Homo sapiens: one gene and its partner. Changing the gene in region 1 together with any one later gene gives a genetic interaction. Each region holds a gene or a part of one and is shown on either strand. Other genes may lie near its edges.

What was found. A genetic interaction does not mean that the proteins touch.
Region 2: changes in MCM3AP (region 1) and PNN together harm fitness more than expected from each alone (negative genetic interaction), as found in Homo sapiens cells (one large-scale study listed by BioGRID).

Annotation. Positions count from the first base shown.
Region 1 is NC_000021.9:46,233,726-46,238,677, reverse strand, and holds the end of MCM3AP (germinal-center associated nuclear protein), read left to right. Parts: intron 1-1,698; coding exon 1,699-1,849; intron 1,850-2,351; exon of another isoform or gene 2,352-2,454; intron 2,455-3,251; coding exon 3,252-3,410; 3' UTR 3,411-3,545; downstream 3,546-4,952.
Region 2 is NC_000014.9:39,180,803-39,183,780, reverse strand, and holds the end of PNN (pinin), read right to left. Parts: coding exon 1,918-2,978; 3' UTR 561-1,917; downstream 1-560. UniProt on the Homo sapiens protein: Transcriptional activator binding to the E-box 1 core sequence of the E-cadherin promoter gene; the core-binding sequence is 5'CAGGTG-3'. Capable of reversing CTBP1-mediated transcription repression.

The DNA.
Region 1 (4,952 bases):
AGAGTGCAGTGGCACAATCTCGACTCACTGCAACCTCCACCTCCCAGGTTCAAGCAGTTCTCCTGCCCCAGCCTCCCAAGTAGCTGGGACTACAGGTACCCATCACCATGCCTGGCTGATTTTTGTATTTTTAGTAGAGACGCAGTTTCACCATGTTGGCCAGGCTGGTCTTGAACTCCTGACCTCAGGTGATCCACCTGCCTTGGCCTCCCAAAGTGCTGGGATTACAGGCATGAGCCACTGCACCTGGCCAAGATTGTTTTTCTTGAAAAGACCGGTATATGGAAGTAGACAGCTCTAGAGTATGTTAGGTGGCAGTGGGATATTATTTTGAGTTAATTTTAAGCTATAAGCAGCAATCCACTCATTTGGAAAATGTCAGAAGAATTAATTATAGATGCATAAAACCAAAGTAAATTAAATAAGATAAGCCAAACAAGACAATTACAAGTAATGTTAAGTAACACATCGAAGCAGTTGTTTTTGGATTAATACCACCTTTTTCATTAAATATAAATTGGAATTGGATTTATAAATTAAAGGGAAGTGGTTTCTCTAATTTTTTTTTTTTTTTTTTTGAGATGGAGTTTTGCTCTTGTTGCCCTGGCTGGAGTGCAATGGCGTGATCTGGCTCACTGCAACCTCCGCCTCCCGGGTTCAGGCAGTTCTCCTGCCTCAGCCTCCCAAGTAGCTGGGATTACAGGCACGTGTCACCATGCCTGGCTAATTTTTGTATTTTTAGTAGAGACGGGGTTTCACCATGTTGATCAGGCTGATCTTGAACTCCTGACCTCAGGTGATCTGCCCGCCTCGGCCTCCCAAAGTGTTGGGATTACAGGCATGAGCCACCGAGCCCAGCCTAGTTTTTTTTTTTAAATTAAGCTTTATCATAGGAAGTTGTTAAATTTTTAATAAGTACATTTCTGCTTCTCAGTTGATGTCATAACTTAGTTATATTCTTAGTAAAAAGCAAAGGCTTAAGGCTGGGTGTGGTGACTCATGCCTATAATCCCAGCACTTTGGGAGGCTGAGGTGTGCACATCACTTGAGTTCAGGAGTTGTAGACTAGCCTGACAATACAGCAAAATCCCGTTTCTACAAAAAAATACAAAAATTAGCTGGGTGGCATGCGCCTCTAGTCCCAGGTATTTGGGAGGCTGAGGTGAGATCATTTGAGCTTGGGAGGTCAAGGTTGCAGTGAGCCAAGATTGTAACACTGCACTCCGGCCTGGCCAACAGAGCGAGACCTTGTCAAAAAAAAATAATAATAAAATTGGCCAAGCACAGTGGCTCACTCCTGTAATCCCAGCACTTTGGGAGGCCGAGGTGGGTGGATCACCTGAGGTCAGGAGTTCAAGACCAGCTTGGGCAATATGGTGAAACCCCATCTCTACTAAAAGTACAAAAAATTAGCTGGGCACAGTGGCACTTGCCTATAATCCCAGCTACTCAGGAGGCTGACGCAGGAGAATCACTTGAACCTGGGAGGCAGAGGTTGCACTGACCCGAGATTATGCCACTGCACTCCAGCCTGGGCAACAGAGTGAGACTCTGTCTCAAAAAAAAAAAAAAAAAAATTATATAAAATTTTAAAAAAGCAAAGGCTTAAAAAGTTTTTAAGTATATATAGAAGATTAATGAACAATAGTTAACTTCCTAATGCTCAAATATTTTTGAATTTATTACATATTGTTTCAGGTTTGAAGATCAGCTTCAGCAATGGTTGTCTGAAGACTCAGGAGCATTTACGGATTTAACTTCCCTTCCCCTCTATCTTCCTCAGACTCTAGTGTCTCTTTCTCACACTATTGAACCTGTGATGAAAACATCTGTAACTACTAGCCCACAGGTGAGAAGAACGTATACATTTGGCATTTACATAAGAATTAAAGATTGAGAGAATGGCTGGGGAAAAAAGTAATATCACGATTTATCCTATGATGTTTTGATGACCGACAAATTATTAGCTCAAATTAGACCTTTTCTTAAACTTTATCCATATCATTGTTAAAGAGACCCAACTGATTTTGAGTTTCTGCCTACGAAATAAATGAAGAATAGAATTGAAATATTCTTAAGAACTGAATAAGACCTGTAACTGTGTGCTGATGTGTAATTAAGGGCATTAAGGTGATGACAGCAGCTTCTGTTGGAGCACATATTGTCTGAGCTTTGGCATTACCCAGACCTCTCTTCTGGGATTAATTTTTCCTGAGGAAAACTAATGAATGAGGAAGGTAAGCTCCCAGAAGTCAAGAGCCTCACCCAAGAGTGTTCAAGTAGTGAGTGGTCAGGTTGCTTTTCAAAGCCAGATCCAACTGGCTCCAAAGCCTAAGGTCTTTTTACCTTACCATTCTTCCTTCAGTGGTTAAAGATGCAAAAACAGAGTTTCAATCACAGATATGTGCCACTGAACAGGTAAAAACTGTGCTCCTGGACTGGCTTTAGGAAGTCCTTCAATAGAGGAGAAAAGCAAATTAAAATGATGTACTGTTTCCATTCATCAGTTTGGCAAATACTTTAAAAATATTCATACCCTTTGAATTACCAATTCTAACCTAAAGAATTCTGACCTACCAGATATTCCCCAAAAATTAATGTATAAAAATGTTTACTGTAGCATTATTGTATGAAAGTCGAAACAGAATAAATATCCGAAGATGGGAGTCTGATTAAACAATTATAACACATTCATGTGATAGAATAATTCACAGCCCTTGACGATGATATTTTCTAAAAATGACTGGCTGGGCGTGGTGGCTCATGCCTGTAATCCCAGCACTTTGGGAGGCTGATGAGGGAGGATCGCTTAAGTCCAGGAGCTTGAGTCCAGCCTGGGCAACATAAAGAGATCTCATCTCTACAGTACATAATTAGCCAGGCATGGTGCTACATGCCTGTTGTCCCAGCTACTCAGGAGGCTGAGCTGGTAGGATCACTTGAGCCCAGGAGTTTGAGGCTGCAGTAAGCTCCGATCATACCACTGCGTTCCAGCCTGGGTGAAAAATGACTGACACTGGAAATTGTTCATGATAGAATACAAAGGCAAACAGTCTATATACAGATACCAGCTGAATGTACGAGCTAAATGAGGCTGGAAGGATATACAAAGGATAATTTTTTTCCCTCTGTAAAAATAAATGACTACTCAGATGAGGTTTCTAACATGATCCAGATCTAGTACCTTCCCAGAGATAGGTCGTGGTTTATTGACATCCCAAAACTGTTCAGTTTCTTTTTTATTCAAATAGAGTGACATGATGAGGGAGCAACTGCAGCTGTCAGAGGCGACAGGAACGTGTCTAGGCGAACGACTAAAGCACCTGGAAAGGCTGATCCGGAGTTCAAGGGAAGAGGAAGTTGCCTCTGAGCTCCATCTCTCTGCGCTGCTAGACATGGTGGACATTTGAGCAGCCTGACCTGTGGGGAGGGGGTCTCTCCCGAAGAGTTTCTGTTTTTACTCAAAATAATGTTATTCTCAGATGCTTGATGCACTGTTGGAAATGTGATTAATTTAATCATGCAGATAAACCATTTAAATGTCAGTCTCCCAGTTTTTCATAATGAAAAGTTGTTTCCCCTGTGTGACCTCTTCAATATTCTCCTATATTCATGACCTCCTCAGATTGTCACCCACCAGCATATGCTCTGAGGCAGTTTAGAGCTTACATTTCCATGTATAAAAGGCGATTCATTCTCTCAGCAAACTTGCAGTCCTTGATGTGCCAGACATCAGTGATGCAGAGATAAAGTAAGACACAGGGCCTCTGCCTGCTAAGCCCACCCAGCTTACATCCAGGAGAGTCAGGTACTTATGTACATAATTCTCAGAGAATGTGCATGAGGCGTGGGCCTGAATTGGTAGCAAGGAAAAAACAGAGGATGGAACAGGGTCTGGTTGGGTAGAGGAGAAACAGAATTCCCGGAGAGGAGTGCAGGGGTGTAGCTGGAGACAGTGTACTTGAGAGGACATGATGAAAGCGTGGAGGTACCAGCTTGGTTGTGTGGCCAGGTGAGGGGAACAGGCCAGCAGGGTGAGGTCAGAGATTCTTGTCACCTTCTTCTGAGAGCTGTGAGAACCCGTTGTTGAAGATTAGGCAGAGAAGTGATCTGGTCACATTTTCTTTTAAGAATGGCATGTAGGGCAGGAATCTTGAGAGGTGGGTGCTGCAGCCATCCAGGTGAAATTCAAAGGGAATAAGCGTGAGTTTGTTAGCAATTGGTGTGAAGAGAGGGGATAAAATTTGAGCCATATACAGAAAGAGGTATTAATAGACTTGGTGATGTTGCGTATGACCACCAATCTTAAACTGGCACTCAGCATCTCCTGACTGTAATCCTACATCCCCAGACTCTATTTCATGTCTTCTCATTCTCTTCAAACCTCCAACATTCTTAGATCATGTCCTCCTTATTTCACTGAGAAAACAACAGCACTAAGAAGAGAACCTCTTCCTCCACCAAATCAATCCCTGCTTCTCCAAACACACACTACTCAACTCAGGGATCTTTAGTGATTAGCTTCATGTAAAGACTTAAATAATGCTATTTCTTAATCTTGACTTGACATTGTTGACTTCCTACAATGGAAGAGGAGTTAGCTTCTCTTACACTGTCTTTCCCACAACATATTATCACCCCCACCCTCGACACCCACATTTCCTCTCCTATTAGTCTCCCTAAGCAGTTTGATATTGGCTGAAACCTGCATTCACAGTTTAGTATAACTGTATGTTTACCATTTCCTGTTGAGCCCTTTATTGGTTTATGATTACATTTCCTTTAGGTACAACTTTTGATTTTTCCTGGAGTTAATTACATTGTTTTTCTCATTTGCTTGGTTTTCTATGCTCTTGTCACTACTTTACCCAAAAGTCGCTGCCCTAAATGTAAAGCTCTTCCCAACAAAGTCATGTGCATCAGGTAATATGCTCCACTTTCTCTTCGAGATG
Region 2 (2,978 bases), on another chromosome or scaffold:
AGGAGGTCGAGGCTGCAGTCAGATTGTTTGTGCCACTGCACTCCAGCCTGGGTGACAGACTAAGACCCTGTCTCCGAGAAAAAAAAAAAAAAAAAAAAAGATTAAAATGGCCCCTGCACAAGGATGACATGCAAATTCATCAAGCATTCCATATAAGAAAAATTCCTTTCACATACTATGATCAGTAGCGCTTAACTGAAATTACTGAAAATTACTTTCCCCTCAAGCATTCATTATACCCCCATTACTACCCCTCCTATAGTAGAGCTTCAAGCCAATACTAGCCTTTTCTGTAAGCAACATGAATATTGTTCAGATTTTCCAGGTACAAATCAGTAGACAAAACTTAATTTGTATAAAGGATTTTAGTGCATACAAACTGTCATCAAATAAGGTGCTTTTTAACCAGGTTAAATTTTATGATCATCCCTTTAATTCACTATTTACCAACCTCTTTCCTGCCAGGGCACACAGGAAATGAAACATTTTGCTGGATAAGCCACAGATGAAGGTACTAGTGGTGGAACTGGCTCATGGATACAGATTGCTGTGCAAAGCTCTATGCATTTACTGTTTTAATAATTACTCCAATAAAAGGATTTTTAAAAAGAGATCTTTTAACACATCCACTTACACAAGTGAGTTATATACACACAAAAACTAACTGGAAATACTTCTTCACATTTTCACTGTAACCATTTACTTGTCAAGGGAAGGCAAAATGAATATTCAAAGTCAAGGCTAAAGCTACAGTGTTAAACTCAAAGAAGGATGCAATTTAAGTGCTCTCTTGTATAAAGCATCAGAAAGTTAATACAAGTACTAGTCTTAAGCAGTCACACAAGTCTAAGCCACATTTATTTGCACATGTATAGTAATGGCCAACAGATACTCCAAGTTCATACAAATTTGTAAAACAACAAAGTTAATAATCACTTGGTACACTTGTGTGTTATCTTGCTTACATATTAAAACCTAGATGAACTTCCTTCATTTTGTGGACTTCCATACAATACTTCCTTAAACAAAATTCTTGAAAACACATATCAGCATGTTTAAGTTAGAGCCAACACAAAGTTAAGACAAGACACAAACTCAAAAACCAAGTTTGAAAGATACTTTTCTACCTCCCTCCCCTAGAAAGAAGTGATTTTCTTTAACAGATGTATGTTATATCACACAAGTAACCATGAAGACAAAAGAATGACGCTCCCATCATCAGGAAGAAAATGCCAACCAGATCATACTGTTTAGTTATCTACCGAACATATGGTTAAAATATGAGAAACGGGGGAAAATGCTTAGATTAAAATAACAAGGGAGAATAGAAAATAGCAAATGATTTTAAAGAGAACTGTTCCCCCTCAAAGCTGCAAAGCTCTGACTCTGACAACTAAAAACTGTCCAAGGCAAATAAAAACGAGGAAACCTTCAAAAACATTCTAATCACGTGCAGTATCTAGTGTTAAAAGCTGAAAATGATAAAGAGGATATTTATTATACAAGTGTCAACGAGGACATCCCAAAAATAATGAAATAAACACACATTTATTTCTACAAAAGCAATGTATGATACAGAATTAGAAGGGAACAGACTTAAAGATTTGCCTATTAAAATATACAGATTCTTACTGAAGAGTATAGGATATTTAAAAAAGATGACAAGGGATGTTAATCTTTTTTTATTATTATCATTTTTACATATTTTGGAACCTCACATAATTTTGATAAATAACTCTTACAAAATTATGCAAAAAGTACAAGAATGTCTGGTAAACAAACAGTCTGTATTTTCCAAAAAGATTTTTTACAACATGCAATTCTTAAGGCAGCATCCTCTTTACAAGGAAAGGTAATCCTTTTTTATCAAGAAATCTTCTGCTGCAAAGAATGGCTAAGAAAGCCTGGCTTCTTCCATTAACGCCTTTTGTCTTTCCTGTCTGATTTTCGGTCTCTTTCACTTCTTGAAGATCTTTTGCCTGATCGACTACTCTCTGATATAGACCTCTTTCTGTCGGACCGGGAATTCTTATCCTTTGATCCTTTTGTATCTCTACTACTACCACCTTTTGAAGATTTGTGACTTCTTTCTAGTCCTGAAGTATCCCTTCTCTTCCGATCCACGCTCCTTCTGTGCTTTCTATCTCTATTATGTCCCCGGCCCCTACTCCGACTTCTACTCTCACTACTACTACTAGTGCTACTGCTACTATCTCTGCTGCTGCTGCCACTTGTACTGGAGCTGCTACTGGAACTACTGCGACTGCTACTACTTCCACTGCTGGAACTACTTCCACTGCTGCTACTGGTTGAACTGCTACTAGAACTGCTACTGCTACTGCTTCGACTTCTACTCTTGCTTGTTTTATTTCTAGCTCGACCTCTACTTCTGCTCCTAGTTTTGGTTTTGCTCTTGCTCTCTGGATGTACTGTCAAGACTGGCTCTACTGGTACCTCAGTGAGTTTTACAGACTCTACAGGAAAATCCTTCCTCTCAGGTAGTAAATGCCCTTGCTCCTGAGTAACTTGGGGTGTTGGCTGTAAAACAGCTAATGACAAATCCTCAGGCTGAGAGGGAGGCTGGGACTGGAGTACTGGTTGGGACTGGGATTGAAGCTGAAGCTGGGGCTGAGACTGAGGCTGAGGTTGAGCCACAGGCTCAGGTTGGGGCTCAGATTCTTTTTCTTCTTTTTCCTCAGACTCCTTTTCCATGTCTAAAGCACTGACATTCTCTTTCCCAGGAGAAAGGGTTTTACATTCTTTATCTGGCTCAATTTCAAATTCCATTTCTGGTTCCAATTCTTTGCTAGCTTCATTTTCTGAAGGTTCTACACTTTCAACTCGATTAGTTTCCATTACCTCCTGGTCAGCAATTACATGTTTGACATTCTCAACCATCTCTAGCACATCCATAACTTCTTCAGGCTGACTATCCTGCTGCTTCTCACTTTCCCTTACCTCAGTTTCCTCCTCCATCT